Linked DNA regions of Homo sapiens: regions 1, 2 and 4 are each reported to be linked to region 3. The links are microRNA targets in miRTarBase. Many come from high-throughput screens and were not tested one by one. Region 3 holds a microRNA gene; each other region holds the end of a gene's coding sequence.
What was found. Region 3 holds the annotated microRNA hsa-miR-552-3p (AACAGGUGACUGGUUAGACAA, at 3,054-3,074, shown strand). A microRNA usually pairs through its seed, bases 2 to 8, with sites in the 3' UTR of a target mRNA and lowers its output. Matches are read on the target gene's strand: a 7mer-m8 pairs with bases 2 to 8, a 7mer-A1 pairs with bases 2 to 7 and ends in A, and an 8mer does both.

Region 1: miRTarBase lists HSPA4L as a target of hsa-miR-552-3p. Seed matches in the 3' UTR shown: 8mer at 1,580-1,587 and 8mer at 1,447-1,454.
Region 2: miRTarBase lists ABRAXAS1 as a target of hsa-miR-552-3p. Seed matches in the 3' UTR shown: 7mer-m8 at 4,333-4,339, 8mer at 4,152-4,159, 7mer-A1 at 2,954-2,960, 8mer at 2,414-2,421 and 7mer-A1 at 1,779-1,785.
Region 4: miRTarBase lists ZNF44 as a target of hsa-miR-552-3p. Seed matches in the 3' UTR shown: 8mer at 515-522 and 8mer at 656-663.

Annotation. Positions count from the first base shown.
Region 1 is chr4:127,832,260-127,837,407 of GRCh38, reverse strand. It overlaps HSPA4L (heat shock protein family A (Hsp70) member 4 like), which reads right to left. Exons shown (of 19, transcript NM_014278.4): 19 at 1-4,725. The coding sequence ends at 4,534. Among named protein-coding and RNA genes, the nearest start is that of PLK4, 46 kb to the left of the region's middle.
Region 2 is chr4:83,458,015-83,463,160 of GRCh38, forward strand. ABRAXAS1 (abraxas 1, BRCA1 A complex subunit) reads right to left here. Exons shown (of 9, transcript NM_139076.3): 9 at 1,503-4,888. The coding sequence ends at 4,455. It overlaps MRPS18C (mitochondrial ribosomal protein S18C), which reads left to right. Exons shown (of 6, transcript NM_016067.4): 3 at 332-415; 4 at 1,726-1,783; 5 at 2,959-3,018; 6 at 3,107-4,284. The coding sequence ends at 3,183. Among named protein-coding and RNA genes, the nearest start is that of MRPS18C, 4.5 kb to the left of the region's middle.
Region 3 is chr1:34,667,533-34,672,687 of GRCh38, reverse strand. MIR552 (microRNA 552) reads left to right here and starts at 2,994; the gene lies at 2,994-3,089. All of the region lies in intron 1 of LOC105378641 (a long non-coding RNA gene), which reads left to right.
Region 4 is chr19:12,267,643-12,272,797 of GRCh38, reverse strand. It overlaps ZNF44 (zinc finger protein 44), which reads left to right. Exons shown (of 4, transcript NM_016264.4): 4 at 1-990. The coding sequence ends at 391. Among named protein-coding and RNA genes, the nearest start is that of ZNF44, 25 kb to the left of the region's middle.

The DNA of each region.
Region 1 (5,148 bases), not on the chromosome of region 3:
TGTTACCAGATTTTAAATGTATATTGATATGTACAATTAGCTGTGCCTCTCATTAACAGTTTATACAATAAAATATCACAAAACAAAATTCTGCTTACAGTTCAAAACTTTAGAAGTTTAACCACAAAATAACATTAACTTTAAAAGCAAAAATTTTTGGCCGGGTATGGTGGCTCACGCCTGTAATCCCAGCACTTTGGGAGTCTGAGGTGGGTGGATTACCTGAGGTCAGGAGTTCAAGAGTTCAAGACCAGGCTGGCCAACATGGCAAAACTCCATCTCTATAAAAATACAAAAATTAGCTGGGTGTGGTGTCATGCACCTGTAGTCCCAGCTACTCAGGAGAGGTTGAGGCAGAAAAATCGCTTGAACTCAGGTGGTGGAGGCTGCAGTGAGCCTAGATCACCCCATTGCAATCCAGCCTGGGTAACAAAGCCATACTCTGTCTCAAAACAAAAAAAAAAATTTTGTAAACTTTTAAAAACTGAGAAAGTTATATTTTACCAATAACTTAAGAATCATTTCTAAATCTATAATTTGTAAAATTAATGCAATGACTTTAATTGTGGACTACCAAATACCAACTATTTACTATAAAACAGAAAATCCTAATGGGAGAGGCTTATTATTTGTCAAATTTATGAAAGTGGAGGAATGGTTGTATGTATTTAGGGTGAAAACAAAATCAGTTAATTTGATTACTATATTCAAATGTCTACTACCTTTAATAAATATAGATTTTTCAAAACAGTTAAAGATGGGCTAATTTGGATTAAGTGCTTTAACACTGACATTATGTTAAATTATTGAGCCCCAAAATTCTCTTTAAAGACTTCTATCATGGAATTAATCACAAATATACTAAAAATTGACGCCTCCCTCCCAAAAAAAGTCTAAGAAACCTTTACTTCTTTTAGCTCTTAATATACTAAAAATTGACACCCCCCCCCAAAAAAGCATAAGAAACCTTTAATTCTTTCCTTTAGCTCTTCTTAGTAAATGTCTTGTTTTCCTTTTATGTTTTTGTTTTGTTTTGTTTTTGAGATGGAGTCTTGCTCTGTTGCCCAGGCTGGAGTGCAGTGGCGCGATCTCGGCTCACTGCAACCTCCGCCTCCTGGGTTCACACCATTCTCCTGCCTCAGCCTCCTGAGTAGCTGGGACTACCGGCGCCCGCCACCATGCCCAGCTAATTTTTTGTATTTTTAGTAGAGACGGGGTTTCACCGTGTTAGCCAGGATGGTCTTGATCTCCTGACCTCGTGATCTGCCCGCCTTGGCCTCCCAAAGTGCTGGGATTACAGGCGTGGGCCACTGCCTTTTATGTGTTTGAGACAGGGCCTCACTCTGTTGCCCAGGCTGGAGTGCAGTGGTATGATTATGGCTCATTGCAACCTTGACCTCTCAGGCTTAAGTGATCCTCCACCTCAGCCTCCTGAGTAGCTAGGACTACAGGTGTGCACCACCATGCCTTGCTAAGTTTTTATTTTTTTAGAGACAGGGTCTCACTATGTTTCTCAGGCTGGTCTTGAACTCCTGGGTTCAAGTGATCCTCCCTTCTTAGCCTCTCAAAGTGCTAGGATTACAGGTGTGAGTCACTGTGCCCAGCCTTGTTATCCTTTTCAAAATCAAGTTTATCTGTTATTTCAATAGCCAAATTCTTTGCTGTGCTCTTTCTAGTTTTTTGGAAGAATTTTTGTTTTTTTTTTGAGACGGAGTCTTGTTCTGTTGCCCAGGCTGGAGTGCAGGAGCACGATCTCAGCTAACGGCAGCCTCTGCCTCCTGGGTTCCAGCGATTCTCCTGCCTGAGCCTCCCGGGTAGCTGAGATTACAGGGACATGCCACCACGCCCGGCTACTTTTTTGTATTTTTAGTAGAGACAGGGTTTCACCATGTTGGCCAGGCTGGTCTTGAACTCCTGACCTCAGGTGATCTGCCTGCCTTGGCCTCCCAAAGTGCTAGGATTACAGGCGTGAGCCACAGCGCCTGGCCAAAACTTAATAATTTTACATTACTGCTAAGGAATTATCACAAACTTCCATTATATTATTTAACAATTGTTTTTTATAATCACAGTACAACTATCAAGAGTTGGTTTCTAAAACCACAATTTACACTTTTCCACAGAGCCAAAGTATACTAATTTATATTAATCATTCCAAATATTCCCTACAAACTTCATTCTTATTTGCTTACCATAGGAAAACACTGTTTTACTATGCATCTTTTAAAATAATTTCTGAAATAATAGCTTTTTATTTTGAAAATCTTTGTCTAGCATTGCATATTTTAATGCAGATTAAAATTGGACTGAATTAGACTGTCTACCCAAAGCTGCATTAAAGAGAGCACTCTCTTTCATTAATGAATTAAATAAATAAATACATTATAAGGCTAAATCGTTTTTGAAATCTTTTAAGTTGAATAATTGGGTAGAAAAAGTATATATATTTGGATGTATATAAGTTATTAAATGAAGTGTTATATAATTACAAAAATTAGTGGTACTATCTGACTAAAACACAAAACTAAAAGTGACTTCAGAGCAGGAATGGAAAATGTCAGGATATACTAGAAAATTTAGATGTATTAATAGAAAAGTTGTTCCCATATTTACTCCCAGGAAGTTTCTGAGGCATAGCTCCTAACCAAGTGAGTGGATGTTTTAACCCAAATAGAAGCTCTAAAGTCCCTACTTGTATTGTTACATATTTGCTTTCATTATCTTCATGCTTTTCTTGAAATGAATCTGTACATTCAACATACAAATAAAAAGCATCTATGTTTGTAAAAAATGTATTTCATCACCTATTGGATATACCTATTTCATTTTAAGAGAATTAAGAGAAAGTTTAAAGACTAGGAGAGTTTAAAAATATATTAAGTTTATATGATTTTTTAATGCAAAAAAGAGATTCTTCCCCTCAAAAGACGGAATAAAAATCCCTGCAAAATGCACTACTCCATACTCTCCATTAAGTGCTGACTACATTGTAGAAACAAAATCTCTCGTAGAGAACTAGTTGTGAGAAATAATGACTATCCCTAAAGATATTGTACTCTCAATTTTTACAACTTAAGTCAATATTTAATTGTTCCTAATATAAAGATTTAGCTTTGGGAGAAAATGAGCCTTTTGAAATTTTAACCTAGGTCAATCTAGTTGATTGGCATTAAGGACATAAGGGCTCATATACTTGTCTATGCTTCTGTCTCTTGCAGGTTGAAACACCATTTCAGTCTGTTCCCATACTTAAGCAGTTTCAGGTCTCTGGACAGAAATTAACAATGTGAACAAGTTGGGTGATGAAGCACAGATAAAGTCCTTAAAATACATCTTAAGTTTACAGTCCCTTTTCGCATTTAATTTGTATAAGAAGCACCAAAACTGGAGCCAAGGTTTCAAAAGGTAATGTTAACAGCAGGAACTATAATTTAATCACACAACACTATGTAACATTCTATATTTTTGCCTGTTGATATGTAACATAGTTAAGTTTATTACAAACATTATTTCCTAAGACTTATGGTATAAGTGCTCCTTTTCAAGTATTACCACTTAATAGTGTTTAATCTACAAGGTAACATTAGGTAAATCAATGATAAATGTATATAATGCAATACACTGTGCCACTTCTTCCTACCCTGTGTTAAGGTATTATTAACAAAATCAATTAAGAAAAAAACAAGACAACTATTATAACTGAAACAAGGCTATGAACATCACAGATGCATGTCTGAGTAGATAAACAGCATTTCCCCTTAACATGAAAGTCATTTTGTCAGAGACTCCTGTATCTTTAGGCTAGCATTGTTTTAGCAGCAGCTAGTCTTCAGGACAAGATCAAAAATTTCAAGCGAAAAGACAACGAGTTACTCTGAGAAAACATCAATCCACATTACTAATAAAAGAAGCAAACTGCTGGTTTCACCTTAACATAAAATTGGGTGTGTTCCCTTTCACATGTGATTTAATTCATTTATGTGATGACAGCAAAGCTTTGGATTTCTGTGGTACATCAATGAGATGGACTAATTTGTTGAGAAAGCTCTTATTTGTTTTAATATTTAAATTGTAGCAATACAATAACTAGAAAAAGGTCAGTGCCTCTGTAGCTTTAAACCCCATCAATTTTCATTTGTTTTTCAAAATAAAGATGCAATTAAATCTATGCTTCTGCAACAATAATGCAATAAAGTATCCTTTCCTGAATAAAGGAATTGAGGTTTATCCCAGTAGAAGCTTTAAATAAGGTAGACTGTTGCCAACTATGTATCCATCCTGTATGTTTGATATATAAAATTATCCGGAAAGCTTAGATTGTCTTGTAAATCTAATTCGGCTAACACTGCATATAAGCAGCAATGGAAATGAACAGAAGTGCACTCAATATAAAACACTTTTCAAAACTACTCCAAAAAACAAATGACAAAAGTGGTTAAGAACAACTGAGCGTCTGTTGTGTGTACCAGATGTAAAAGATGGACCCCGTGGTTACTTGCACGGTTTGAATTAATGTGAAGGTAAAATTAAGACTTAGTCCACTTCCATCTCTCCAGAGGATTTAGTATGCTGTGAGCTGTCTTTTGTTGAATCTGATTTAGTTTCAGTTCCACTCTGTCCATCCATTGGGCCATTGTGTTCACTATTAGCTTTTGGTTTGTCTTCAGGAACTTCTGCTTTTGGTTTGGGCTTGTAAATGATGGGGTTACAGAAATTATCCAGTTCCTAAAGACATGAAGAAATTGATTATATTAAAACGATTACAGAACAAGTTACCATTAACTTTCTAAATTCCACATTAACTTTCTAAATTTTCACATAATTCCCCCTTTCTGAATTTGCTCAGCTAGATAGCCAACTGTTTTCTTCAAATGCCTCATGAGAGATTTACCTTGTTTGTTAGTATATGTCTGTGGCAGTCAAAAATTATTGAATCTTAAACAATTATTTTTTGTACTTAACCTTTCTAAAACTTGTTTCTTTATAATCAAATACAGTTTACTTTGGCAGGAATAATTTTTAATTCTTCCTTTAAATTACGTGTAATGCTTTGCTATGAGAATTACATCAAATAACACCTATTTCATAAACTGAAAATTTTCAACATTTATATGAAAACAATTCTAATAAATGGAATCATACAAATAC
Region 2 (5,146 bases), not on the chromosome of region 3:
GCATATGTTATCTATTGTGTTGTAAGTTTCCTTAAATCTAAAAATTTTTTCATTATCTACAATCTGAGCAAAGCATTGGAACACTTTCTTATCAGACATCATTTTTGTTCTGCCATAAAATTTTATTCTATGAAGATTGTACTTTATTCCAGAATCTTCCCATGCGTTAATCCGTAGGCTAAACTAAAACAAAATAAAGTGCTTATACAAAATATGTACACAGTAAGAAAGGTATAACTAATCCTTTGAATGGATTTGAATGTAGAATAGTAACCTTTTAAAATTCAGAATTAACACATCCTATTATCAGACTTTTCGTTTTTTTCCCTAGCCCATTTCAATGGAAAATCCTTATAAAGAACCTCTTAAGAAATGTATCTTGTGTGGAAAGCATGTAGATTATAAGAATGTACAGGTGAGATCTGGTTTTACTTCACTATATTTTAGGGTTTTGCTTCTGATAGATCTGCTTAAAGAGAATCAAGTCAGTTTATAGCAGGCTTTTGTAGAGGTAACTGTTTTAGCAACTTCATAATTTCAAATTTGGTTATAATTCTATGTATAAGCTTATCTCTGCTTTATTCAAGTAAAAGCACCTTGGCTTTCCCCCACTTACTGTTATTTCCACTCTGTTTTTTTCACTACCCCAAACATCTTAATAGCTCCCTGTGGCAGTAATTCTCAATTGGTGAGGGTCAGAACTTTGGAAAAAGCTCATCTGGTGAAGCTGATCTCTTTATCTCACCACCCATATCACTGATTCACATATTACTTATCTCTTGTCTAACTCTCAGCAAGTTAGAAGTTGCAAATTTGGGGCAAGTGAATAGCGCTAGAATTCTGTATGTTGGCTGGGTGTGGTGGCTCACGCCTGTAATCCCAGCACTTTGGGAGGCCAAGGCGGGCGGATCACCTGAGGTCAGGAGTTTGAGACCAGCCTGGCCAATGTGGTGAAACCCCGTCTCTATTAAAAATACAAAAATTAGCTGAGTGTGGTGGTGCATGCCTGTAATCCCAGCTACTTGGGAGGCTGAGGCAGGAGATTTGCTTGAACCCAGGAGGCGGAAGTTGCAGTGAGCTGAGATCGTGCCATTGCACTCCAGCCTGGGTGACAAGAGTAAAACTCTGTCAAAAAAAAAAAAAAAAAAAAAAAAGAATTCCATATATTGACAATAGTATAAAGTGATAGCTGCCTTTGAGGAAGAACCAAGAATTACAAAAACACACATACTAGGAAGATTATGCAAAGTGCCAAGAATAATGACTAGCACCTAGAAAGGTTCTAAAGAAGTATTTAAATAAAACATAAATTATAGCAAATGCCTGGTGTACTTGTACCTCTTGAAAATCTCATTACCCCCTGATAATTTATCTTAATGATTATCAGAGGGTAATGTGATAGCTTGTCAGGATAGATGAAATTTTTTAGTAGCTTGTTTCAAGCAATATTTTAGAAAGGTATCTGTGGAAGTCAAGAAAACAGATTTACCATTGAATGAATATGCTGATTAATCTGCTGTTTAATTATATATAGACTTGACACACTGGATAGAAAATATTTAAAAGGTAACAGGAGGATAACAATATTTTTTTCTTATATTTTATGAAATGTGTCTGAAATTTAGTAAAGCTTTATATAACCTGAAGGTTGTTTTTTGAAATTTACACATTCAGAAATAAATAACAGATACTTTTTTTTCCCCTCCACATAAAACTCCAAAACAGCTTTTGTCCCAGTTTGTTTCTCCATTTACTGGATGCATTTATGGAAGGCACATTACAGGTATGTTCTTTTTTATTATGGGAATATAAATGTAGATACGAATTATATCAATCTATTTCTATCATTTAAGAAAACTCAAATTTTCAAATTGTGCTATAAATTACTACTAGATCAGATACTACAGGGACTAGAGCTAGTTACTATGAAAAAGTCTCTTAGGCCAAGAGGATTATTATTTTGCTGTCTTATGCAGAGTTAACTATATAGAAAAACTGGGCTTTAAAAAACTGTTGTTGATGTTTTGGAATATACTATAATCATTCCTAGATTGATACTTAAACTTGGTGTCAGCAAACTATGGCCCATAGGCCAAATTCGACCTGCTCCCTTTTTATCTTGATTAGGTTCATCATATACAAATGCCACTTTTTTTTTTTTTTGAGATGGAATCTCACTGTCACCCAGGCTGGAGTGCTGTGGCACAATCTCGGCTCACTGCAACCTCTGCCTCCTGGGTTCAAGTGATTCTCATGCTTCAGCCTCCCGAATAGCTGGGATTACAGGCATGCACCACCACGCCTGGCTAATTTTTGTATTTTTAGAGATTGGGTTTCTCCATGTTGGCCAGGCTGGTCTTGAATTCCTGACCTCAGGTGATCCACCTGCCTAGGCCTCCCAAAGTGCTGGGATTACAGGTGTGAGCCACTGCACCCAACCCCACTTGTTTTTGTAGTTTTGTTTACGTAGTGCCATATGGTTGTTTTCGAGCTACAACAGCAGAGTTGAGTGGCAGTGATGGAGACTGTATGGCCCACAAAACCTAGATTATTATTGTGGCCCTTGACAAAAATGATTTACCAATCCTTGACTTAAAAACTTGTTGAGGCTGGGCATGTTGGCTCACACCTGTAATCCCAGCACTTTGGGAGGCTGAGGTGGGCAGATCACCTGAGGCCAGGAGTTCAGGACCAGCCTGGCCAATATGGTGAAACCCCGTTTCTACTACAAATACAAAAAAATTATCCGGGTGTGGCGGTGCATGCCTGTAATTCCAGTTACTAAGGAGGCTGAGGCAAGATAATCGATTGAGCCTGGGTGGCGGAGGTTGCAGTGAGGCGAGAGAGCACCACTGTACTCCAGCCTGGGTGACACAGGGAGACTCCATCTCAAAAAAAAAAATTGCAAACTTTAAATATTGACATTTTTTATGAATAAGAAAGCTTTTTATTTTACAGGTCTTTGTGGGAAGAAACAGAAAGAAATCACAAAAGCAATTAAGAGAGCTCAAATAATGGGTAAGAAAGAATACCTCAACAACTGAATTGAGCTAGCTGAAATTTTGCTCATTATGTTTTGTCAAGAACTTTAATTATCTCTTTACAGGGTTTATGCCAGTTACATACAAGGATCCTGCATATCTCAAGGACCCTAAAGTTTGTAACATCAGATATCGGGAATAAATTCTATCACGTTACCACTAATAAACTTATTTTACAGTAAGTGGTTGTATGATGCCAATACTGACTCAAACCAACCTTTGGATAGAAAAGTGTTTGAGGAGTGAGGTAAAGAATGACACTTCCCCTTCATACCAATGTCCATTAAGCAGATTGCTTATTTAAAATGTTAACACTCATCACATTTTATCTATGTTGAATAAAAGTGGTTCTGTGTGATTGTCATTTATATCTGATCCCCAAATAGCTCATACAATAATCCATTCAATAGAATGGAATTAAAACTGTTCAGAATGATTTTCCAACTAGCAAATATAAGTATGCCTGGTTAAGATATCTTCCCTTTGTAGAAATGTTACATTGGGATGGATAGTGGTGCTGTCACAGAAGGACAAAATATTCCTAGACGAGTCTACCCTCAAACCAGTAGTGTCTTTTACATGAAGAGATGATTTACACCTAATAGACATTGAATATGATAGACATACATGTATATATGTATCAGTTCTGAGTTCCACTGGCCTATCCCAAATACACTGGATTACCAGGCTTGTACTGTATTCAAAATGATAGATTTGCTAAATTTCATGCAAAGGACTCTAAACTAGGGGAGAGATTACTGTTTGTGTTGTGTTATAGTTGTGTAATAATTAAGGCTGCCAGATTTAGCAAGTACAAATGTAGGACAAATTTAAATTTTAGATGATGTTTTGCAAATTTATTGCATGATATCCAGCATTTTATCTGGCAACTCTAGCCATAATGTACTTCTAAAAAAGTATCACTTAAGGAGAATTTTAATGACTCAGATAAATTTTCATATAAATTTCTTTCCATATTTTGAAAATAAGGCTATTCTTGCTTTTCCATTTTATTTTTTAATAGACATGGTCTCAATACGTTGCCCAGGCTGGTCTCTAACTCCTAACTTCAATCAATCCTCCTGACTTGTCTTCCCTAAGTGCTGGGATTACAGGTGTGAGCCACTGTGCCTGGTCTCACTTTTCCAATTCTAAAGAATGTGTCTGTGTAAGCCTTCCCCTCAACAACTTAGTGAAAGGTGAAAAAAAGGTTTGGAAATAAAAGCATCTGATGTTTGAAAAAGTACTTTGTGAAGTAAATGCACTAAGAGTTATCTGTGTATTACTGCAAACAGGTGAACATAGTAAAAACAAATGAACTTACTGCAAGTAGCTCAACATAGTAAAAACAATAGAAATGTTTGGCTTTACCCATCAGCCAAATAAAAAAATCTCCTTGTAAGGTTAAAAGGATCAAAATGTAGGAGACCGTGAATATTCACCAAAACCCTTCATCTTTTCAATTTCTTCATCTGTTTCTGGGCTGCTCATTTTGGATGCTTTATCTTGGTTACTACTACCAGTATCTGCTTTAGATCGTTTGTCTTGTGTATCTAACAACCGAGATCTCTTGAATTGCCATCTGTCATCTAAGTCTAAGGCTTTATGCTTAATGATTTGTGGTGTACTAGCTGGACTAGCTTCAGGAATGTCAGTGTGTTCTACCATTAAGGTCAGATTGTCTACTACATCGAGATGGTGGTTGTAGTTACAGCTACTTTTAGAAACATGTCTATTTTTTAAAGACATAACACATGAATGAAGAAATTCAGAATTTGGAAAAAAGGTCCGTAATGCCTGACAAAGAAAAATGTTCTCCTGAGGGTCTTTTTGGATGTTCTTCTCTCCTAAACAAAATAGAATAACAGTTCAACATATAACATTTCTTCTACAAAGCTTTTATAATTAACTATTTGTAAGTAAAATTAAGTCAAAAAGATTTTAACAGTTGTATTATCTAAAGTGAGGATAACATACATAATTCTGAATTCTAATTTATATGCCACAGTATTCTAAGACAAAATTAAAGTTGTGTTCTTTCATGTCAGCAATATAGCTACCATAGTATTATGTTCTTTAAAAGCACAGAAAGGGCCGAGCGCAGT
Region 3 (5,155 bases):
AGCACACGCTATAAGAAAAGATTTGTAACACAAATAAGTGGGAAAGATTAGCATTGAGAATATGTTAAAAACAAAAAACAAAAAACCTCCTGCAAGCCAATGAGAAAATGACAACCTGATATATGGTTTGGCTGTGTCCCCACCCAAATCTCATATTGAATGTAAGCTGAATTGTAATCCCTATGTGTTGAGGTGTTAAGGGATCTTTGGGGTATCAATTGGCCAGAAACCTCTGTGGCTGGTGGCACCTTTGCTGAGGTCTTGTCCTGTGTCCAGGAAGAATGAGGTACACAGACAAGTGTAGGGTAAACACGATGAAGAGGAGGTTTATTGAGTGTTAGAATGCTCAGAAGAGACCTGTGGTGGATAGCTCCTCTCTGCAGGCAGGTCATCTCGTTGAGTGTTCAGCTTTCAGCAGAGAGGAGGCCCTGGGGTCTGTGGCTCCTCTCTGCTGGCAGGTTGTCCCATTAAGGGTTCAGCTCTCAAGAGAGAGGAGGCTCTAGAGAGGGTAACTCCTCTCTGCAGCTGGTCATCCTTGTCCTGTCAGGGGTTCAGCTCTCAACAGAGAGGAGGCCCTGGAGATGGTAGTTCCTCTCTGCAGGTGGTCATCCCAATGTCTGCTGCTTTCAACAGAGAGGAGGCCCTGGAGAGGGTAGCTCCTCTCTGCAGCCAGTCATCCTGATGTCTGCTGCTTTCAACAGAGAGGAGGCTCTGGAGAAAGTTGCTCCTCTCTACAGGCAAGTCTTCCTCTCTTCTTCCCAGCTCTCAGCAGAGAGGATAGCTCCTCTCTGAAGTTGGTCATCCCATCATCTCTCCATCCTCTACCCTGCTTTAGCTGAGCCTGGGGCTTTTACGGATGTCAGAGGGGAGGAAGTGTGTGTCAGTTGGTCCATGGGTGGCCATGGGCAGGCCTGAAAGGCACTGCAAGTCCCCACTTTGATCTGCGGGACTTACTGCTCAGCCCCCAGCCTTCAGGCCATCCCTGGCCTAAAGGTAGGGCCTTACTAGGGATCCACTCCCTTCAATCCAGGAGCCTGTCTGCCTCCTGCTGCCATCCATGGTGCCTATGGTGCCCAGGCTGCTTGCACCAAAAGGCACCTGCAGGCCAGTGCCAAGCCACCCTCAGCCCTCCCCCTCAGTTTCTCCTCTCATGCTCATTTTGCCCAAATTCTGGAGGAGGCCGAGGTAGCAGGGTACTGGCATGTCAGCACTGCCCCAAGCATGTGCACACCTGGCCAGGCTGTGCCAGTGCCCAGGATAGGCCCCAACCTGGCTCCAAGATTGGAGTAGGGTGCCAGGAGTGGAGAGGCCAGGCAGCAGGAGCAGACACTCTAGAGCCTGTGGGGCCAGGGGGTTGGGGGGGACTTCTGAGGCCCCCAAGAGTGAAGACTGCAGAGACTCTCGGGTCCTGCGCTTGGGAGGGTGGCCACAGCTGCACCTAGGGAACTCCCGCCTTGCCAACTCAAAAGGGGTGGGGCTCCCACTTGTCACCAGCTCCTGCCTGCCTCACGGAGTGTGCAGCCCTGGGGTGGTGCCTCCCTGCTGCAGCCTGCATGATGGCAGCGGCCACTGCCAACAGAGGGAGGAACCTGGTGGGAGGTGATTGGATCAAGGGGGCCAGTTTCCCCCGTGCTGTTCTCGTGGTAGTGAGTGAATTCTCATGAGATCTGGTTGTTTGATAAGTGGCTCTTTCTCCTTCTTTCTCTCTCCCTCTCCTACTGCCTTTTGAAGATGTGCCTTGTTTCCCTTTTGCCTTCTGCCATGATTATAAGTTTCCTGAGGCTTTCCCTGTGAGTCCATTAAACCCCTTTCTTTATAAATTACTCAGTCTCAGGTAGTATCTTTATAGCAGTGTGAAAACAGACTAATACACAACTCAATACGAAAATGGGCAAAGTAACTTAAATAGACACTTAATGAAACAGGAAATCTGAATGTCTAGACTGAATATTCAGTTTCACCAGGGAAGTAAAGGAACTATTTGTATTTATTTGTATGATTATTTGTAACTTGGGAAATACAAATGAAATAGATATCATTATATGCCCATTACATTGTTAAAATTGAAAAAAAGTCTGATAAGATCAAGTGCTAGCAAAGGCATGGAGTAATAGGAACTTTTACACTGCTGGTGGCAGTTCTAAGTGATGAAATTTCTTTGGCATAAATTCAGCATTATCTAATAACATTAATAATGCACATACCCTGTGATCCAGAAATGTTACTAGGTCTATACCTTAGAGAACTTATATAGGTGCAGCAGTGGACACATCAAGAAAGCCCATGGTAACATGGCTTGTGAAAGCAGAACAATAAGCAATGTCCATCAATAGTATAATGATACAGCAAAATACAAAACAATAGTAGAATGATACAGCAACAAAACCAAAAAAATCCATCTGCATAGATAAAACTGAGGACAATAATCTTGGGTAAAAAAGCAAGCTATAGACAAGTTGCTGAGTAGGAGAAGATATTTTCAAATCACACACCTGAAAAGGACTAGAATCTTGATTATATAAGAGCTCTCAAAACTCAATGGTAAAAAGAAAACAAGTAATCTACTAGAACATGGGCAAAACACATGAATAGATATTCCATAGTGTAAGTTATTCAAATGGCAAAAAAAATCCATGAAATATGTTCAACATAAGGGTAATGCAAATTAAAACCATGATAACATATCACTATGCATCTATCAGAATTGCTAAAATAAAAAAAAAATGAGAACACCCAACATTGGCAAGGATGTAGAGAAATAGGCTTGTTCATATATTGTTGATGGGATGTAAAATTGTAGATCTAGCCTAGAAAACAGAGGGCAGCTAATTATAAAACCCAGCATGCCTATGACCCAGCAGTAGCGCCCTCAGGTGTTTATCCCAGGGAAATAAAAACTTATGTCCACACAAAAACCTGGGGAGCTTTATTTGCAATAGCCAAGTGTTCACAGCAGCTTTATTTGTAATAGTCGAATATACTACAGTTTGTTTAACCATTCAAATATACCACAGTTTGTTTAACCTTTTGCCTGTTGGTTGAAGATGCCTTTCAACAGGTGACTGGTTAGACAAACTGTGGTATATACACAGGATGGAATACTACTCAGCAATAAACAAGCAACAAGCTATTGATTACAAACAACTTGGATGAATCTTTGGGGAATTATTATGAGTGAAAAAAGTCAATGCCAAAGGCTACATATGTATGATTACATTTATATAACATTTTGAAATGACAAATGTTACAGATAGAGAAGGGATTAGTGGTTGTTGAGGGTTAAGAATGTGGTGAGGTGGAGGGAGGTGGTTATAAAGGCACAACATGAAGGATCCTCATGGTGATGGACTGGCTGATGTCTTGACTTTAGTGATGGACACACACACACACACACAGACCACAAATGATACAAGTAAATTGGAGAAATCTGGGTAAGACTGGTGAGCTGTATCATGTCAATATCCTGGTTATGATATTGTACTAGTGTTTTAAAAATGTTATTGTATTAGTCTCTTCTCATGCTGCTGATAAAGACATACCTGAGACTGGGTAGTTTATAAAGGAAAAGAGGTTTAATGGGTTTACAGTTTCACATGGCTGAGGAGGCCTCACAATCATGGCAGAAGGTGAAAGGCACGTCTTACATGGTGGCAGATATGAGAGAAATGAGAACCAAGTGAAAGGGGTTTCCCCTTATAAAACCATCAGACCTTGTGAGACTTATTCACTACCATGAGAACAGTATGGGGGAAACCACCCCCGTGATTCAATAATCTCCCCCTGGGTCCCTCCCACAACACGTGGGAATTATGGGAGCTACAACTCAAGATGAGATTTGGGTGGGGACACAGCCAGACCATATCAGTTACCACTGGGGGAAACTGGATAAATGGTACACAGAATTGCATATGAATTTATAATTATCTCAATAACAAATTCTAATTAAAAATTATTAACTCTTTCACTCAAAAATTTCAGAAACAAATTTATCATAGCTTTGACTTGGCTACAAAAACCCCAAGCCATACAAACCTACATAACTGCAAGATTCTAGTCTTAGAGATCAAAAACGTATTAAACAATATATTGTTCAGGATATAAGGTGATAAAGAAAAAAAACATTGGAGAATGAATTCAGATTAGCATTTCTCTGGGTTACGAAGAGAGGCAATCAGATCAAAGAGGTCATGCTTGATGGTCACGCTTTCATTTCTAAACTGGATGGTGGGATACACGAATGTTCCCTTTATTGTTATTCTTTGTACAGCAGACATGTTTTATAAATATCTTTTGTACCCACTCAGTATTTAATGAAACCTTGTAGAAAGTCTTTGGTGTGTGTTGGTGTATATGTTGTGTGTGTATTTGTATTTGGCAATGTATGTTTCCACCTCCTGAGCCTGGCAAGCTCTTTCCTGCCACAGGACCTTTGCACTTGCTATAACCTCTTCTGAGAACTCTCCTTCTTTGGTTCTTCAAAGATTGTGGTCCCACCTCAGCTCAGGCAAGTGAAGTGAAGAGACTTTCAGATCAATGCGTATGCATCCTGAATGGTCTTGTTTGTTGATTCATGTATCTGCCTCTTCTGACTAGAATGTAAGTTCCCTGACGTCAGAGAGCTCCTCTAACTTATTCAACCATTACCTAGACGTGGGTTGACAGACTGAACGAATGCATATTTATGCATATGAATTTAGGGTCTAAAAAAAGCATGCCAATTGAAAGTGTTGGCTTCCTAAGAATTTCTTTGGGCTACTGACTATTTTACTCTTTAATAGTATCATGGTAAACTGGGGGTTAAATTGCTTTTGCAATTATTGAAGGTCTGAGTGAAGGGAGTTACGTAGAATAACAAGGGGCATGTCTTTGAAGGACACAGGTAACAGCAAAGAACAAGTTTAAAAGAGTTAAACACATTCTAGCTAAAGAGGGAATAAGTTTAAATTGGGTTATTTTCCCTGGAGATTATTGCAATTTTAAGAGTAATGCTGCTTCCAAGAATGTTAGCTTTTCTCTTGGTGACCATGGATATAACAGTGTGTGGGTCCGTCATTAATCAGGATAAGGCATTACAGATCTGGGTCCTATTACCCTAAGTTTGTTTGTAAAATGGATTTCTTTGCAGGCAGCACTGACGTGTGACCATGTGATGTTT
Region 4 (5,155 bases), not on the chromosome of region 3:
TTCTTTTAAATACTTTTGTCGCCATGAAAGGACTCACAGTGAAGAAAAATCTTATGAGTGTCAAATTTGTGGCAAAGCCTTCAGTCGTTTCAGTTACTTAAAAACTCATGAAAGGACTCACACGGCAGAGAAGCCATATGAATGTAAGCAATGCAGGAAAGCATTCTTTTGGCCCTCTTTCCTTCTAAGACATGAAAGGACTCACACTGGAGAAAGACCCTATGAATGTAAACACTGTGGTAAAGCCTTCAGTCGTTCCAGTTTCTGTCGAGAACATGAAAGAACTCACACTGGAGAGAAGCCCTATGAATGTAAGGAATGTGGGAAAGCCTTCAGTTCTCTCAGTTCCTTTAATAGACATAAAAGGACACACTGGAAGGATATTCTATAAGTGTATGGAATGTGGGAAAGCATTCATTGGTTTTATCACATTCAGATACTTGAAAGAAATAAATCCTGTGAATGTAAACGTGGTAAAGCCTTAAGAAGTTTCCAGGCTGGGCGCAGCGGCTCACACCTGTAATCCCAGCACTTTGAGAGGCCGAGGAGGGCAGATCACGAGGCCAGGAGATCGAGACCAGCCTGGCTAACATGGGAAACCCTGTCTCTACTAAAAATACGGAAAAAAAAAAAAATAGCCAGGCATAGTTGCTCACACCTGTAGTCCTAGCTACTCAGGAGGCTGAGGCAGGAGAATCCCTTGAACCCGGGAGGTGGAGGTTGCAGTGAGCCGAGATTGCACTACTGCACTCCAGCTTGGGTGCTAGAGCGAGACTCCATCTCAAAAAAAAAAAAAAAAGTTTCCATTTCTTTCAAATAGAGTTGCTGCCTGCTATATGCAAGAAGATTGGTTCCAGTACACCCTGAGTATACCTAAATCCACAGATGCCAGCTCTTTTATAAAATGGAATATTCGCATGTACCTACCCACATTCTCCTGTATACTCTATAAATGTCTAGATTAATTAAAATATCTCATGCATTGTAAAAGCTGTGTACATAGTTGTATTGTTTAGGGAATCATAAGAAAAAAAATCTATATGTGTTCAGTACAGACCCAACCATTGCAGGCCTATCTACATCGTATATATCACCTATAATGTTACAGTTTCTTGTTTCAATACTCAGATTACTTTTGTCTAATGACCTGAAAGAATGTGTTAACACCAACCACAATTCTGGTTCTTCTCTCTTGATAACCCAAGTATTACGATGGTTATGACAATGATGATTGCTGTATGGTGCCTAATGTGATGTGTAGAGGTGACTAGATGTGTGGCATCATAGATAAACAGTGAGACCTCAGGCTAACTTGAATCTTGACAGGACATCAAGACCTTCATCTATGTTGGAAGACCCAGGTTCTGATTGAAGATGTTGACTCTTTGCAGGAGGCTAATACTAATGTCAGCATCTGTTCAGCTTGAGGGCTGAAGATGTTTGTGTTGAAGGGTATGTCTTCATATTTGCAGATATTTAGTTAGAAGCATTGTTTTAGGAAGCTAGTTCTTTTTCTTTGAATCCCTAAAAAAACCTTAGTGTTCATTAGCATATTTTCCCTTATATGACACAGAAGCTTTTTTCAATCAAAGGATGTTAGCTGAGGTTGATTATCTTTAACACTTGCAACTTGCAGAGGCTATAGATGCCCCAAGATCTGCTGCAAATTTTTCGCGTGTCCAAATCAATGGCACTGCTCCTCTTCTTAATCTTCTGCATCATCAGCAGCATCATCATCATCATCATCATCATCATCATCACTTGTAGAGGATTTCAGTATATCTTCAGTTTCCTTTCCACCAACTTTCTTTGCAACATTTAAGATATTCCTGACTGCTGTATCAGTCTTGGGGAAACCCCTGAAATCACTTACTCCCTCACTCCAATGGCTTCCAATATGCTTTGGGTGTCCTGGGCTTTAGGGCATCTACAGCCTCTGCAGTAAGCACAGTTGCATCTGCAATTGTGAAGCTCTTCCATAAGTACACTGTGGTACAGTCAGGGTTAGAATCAAGGCAACATAAATTGTATAAATATTGAGGTGGGGCTGGGCACACTTGTTCACACCTGTAATCCTAGCACTTTAGGAGGCTGAGGCAGATGGATCAACTTGAGGTCAAAAGTTTGATACCAGCCTGGTCAACATGGTGAAACCCCATCTCTACTAAAAATACAAAAATTAGCTGGGCCTGGTGTCATGCGCATGTAGTCCCAGCTACTTGGAAGGCTGAGGCAGGAGAATCACTTGAACCCAGGAGGCAGAGGTTGCAGTGAGCCAAGATCCTACCACTGCACTCCAGTCTGGGTGACAGAGTGAGACTCGGTCTCAAGAAGAAAAAAAAAAAGTTGAAATGGGTGTAAATTGCCTTAATCTGCTTGATGATCCTTGACCAAGTGGCTGTGGCAGCGATAACAGTGTTAGAAGGCAAGAACATCACTTACACTTTTTCATCAGCATAACAGAAAAATTAAATTTTTGTTTTGTATTGAACATGAGCTTTGCTGGATATACGATTCTTGGTTAAGCTATGTTTCATAGCAGAGCATGATGAGAGTGTGTGTGAGGCTTCCCACTGAAAGGAGGAATGGAACCTAAGAAAGAGCAAATGTATCTATTTTACCCTAGTTATTTATCATTACAGTAGTCAACTAATGTCACACAACAATGATCAATATGAAGAATGGGATGGAAGAAGCAAATAATGTGGTTGGAGATTATAGCATTGTCTTCTTAGGAGACTGAAGACAAAACAACTGGAAATCTATTAAAACTGTGAAGGAGTCAATTTGCTGCTTATGGAGTGAGCATATCCTGTATTCATGATAGCATATACTATTGACTTAAAATAATATTTCTTGCAAATATATATAAATTTCTGAGGATGGTACTAATGCCATATGCAACATCTATTTGTGGACAAGTATGAGTGTTTTCTGATGAGATGACCTAAGTATCACCTCCATGGATATATATATATACAACTTTGGTGGATTGAAGTCTCCTCATCCCAGTGCTCATTGGGGAGAAATCCCATAATGTAAGTAATTTGGGAAAATCCAATCCAAATTAACTCATGTATAGTGCTCCAGAAAATTTGCATCATCAAAGAAATGTTATAACATTTATAACTATTGGCCAGGTGTGGTGACACAACATCTGTAATTCCAGCACTTTGGGAGGCTGAGGTGGGAGGATCGCTTGAGGCCAGGAGTTCAAGACCAGCCTGGGGAACATAGTGAGACTCCATCTCTTATTTTATTTTATTTTATTTTTTGAGATGGAGTTTCACTCTTGTTGCCCAGGCTGGAGTGCAATGGTGCTATCTCGGCTCACTGCAACCTCTGCCTCCTGGGTTCAAGTGATTCTCCTGCCTCAGCCTCCCGAGTAGCTGGGATTACAGGCACCCGCCGCCATGCCTGGCTAATTTTGTATTTTTAGTAGAGACAGGGTTTCACCGTGTTAGCCAGGATGGTCTCAATCTCCTGACCTTGTGATCCATCTGCCTTGGCCTCCCAAAGTGCTGGGATTACAGGCGTGAGCCACTGTGCCCGGCCTTCTTTTTTAGAATGTGTAAACTAGACACAATTTTTCTCATGTCATGCACATAAAAGCAGTATTTTCCAGCAGTGGTCGCTCACTCTCCTTGCTGGGCAGACAGTCAGTGTATCCAGGGTGCAGTGATTTTGGAGTATCCAGGTGTGGATGAACTATTTACTTGTGGTTGGAGTGCTTCCCAGATTCTCATAGCCAGGGGCCCAGGCATGGTGGCTCAAGCCTGTAATCCCAACACTTTGGGAGGCTAAGGCAGGAGGATCACTTGAGTCTAGGAATTTGAGACTAGTCTCAGCAACATAGGGAGACCATGTGTCTACAGATAATTTTAAAAATTAGTTGGGGTAGTGGTGCACGCCTGTAGTCTCAGCTATTCGGGAAGCTGAGGTGGAAGGATTGCTTGAGCTTGGCAGGGTGAGATTGGAGTGAGCCATGATTGTGCCATTGCACGCCAGCCTAGGCAACAGAGCAAGACCCTGTCTCAGAAAAAAAAAAAAAAAAAAATTAGCCAGGCATGCTGACATGTGCTTGTAGTCCCAGTTACTGGGTGGGAGGATAACTTGAACCCAGGAGTTTGAGGCTGTGGTGAGCTATGATCATGCCTCTGTACTCCAGCCTGGGTGACAGAGTGAGACCCTGTCTCAAAATAAATAACAGTGTAAGTTAAATAATAATAAAGAGATTTTCTCCTGGCTCTGAAACCATTTCTGGACCTGCAAGGCAATCATGTGGAATGAAATGGGGCCATCCATCAACAGGGCAGGTAGTAGATTAGCCAGATTTACTAGTATAATGTTAGACATAGACCAGTAGAACAGAATAGAGAGACCAGAAATAATCTTCATTTATGGTCTGTTGATTTTCTACAAATGCCCCAAGATAATGGGGAAAGCGTTTTCAACATGGTGCTGGGACAACTGGATATTAACCTGCAGAAAGATGAACTGAGACCTTTATCTCATATCATATGTGAAAATTAACACTAAAATGATGAAAAGCAAAAATACAAAGTTAGCATCAGATGTAGGAGAGTATCTTTGTGACTGGGGTGGGGAAGGAGCTTGTGTGTGTGTGTGTGTGTGTGTGTGTGTGTGTGTGTCTGTGTGTGTGTGTAAGAACACCAAAGGCCCATGTAATCCCAGCACTTTGGGAGGCCGAGGCAGGCGGATCACCTGAGGTTAGGAGTTTGAGACTAGCCTGGCCAACATGGTGAAACCCTGTCTCTGTTAAAAATACAAAAATTAGCCAGGTGTGGTCACGCTCGCCTGTAATCCCAGCTTCTTGGGAGGCTGAGACAGGAGAATCGCTTGAACCTGGGAGGCAGAGTTTGCAGTGAACCGAGATCACACCACTGTACTCCAGCCTGGTTGACAGAGCAAGACTCTGTCTCAAAAATTAAAAAAAAAAAAAAGACAATCTGTCAAGGTGAGACTTAGAGACTAAGTCTCATTTGGGTTGTCTCCTAGAAGAAGGGTTTATAAAGTTGACAGTTTAGGGCAGAACCTTAAACTGACTCCAGGTGAGAGTTTCTTGCTTTTGAAAATAAAGATCTTGAAGGGAAGATTGTTCCCACATGAGGTGGGAACAGGAGGACATGTTGAG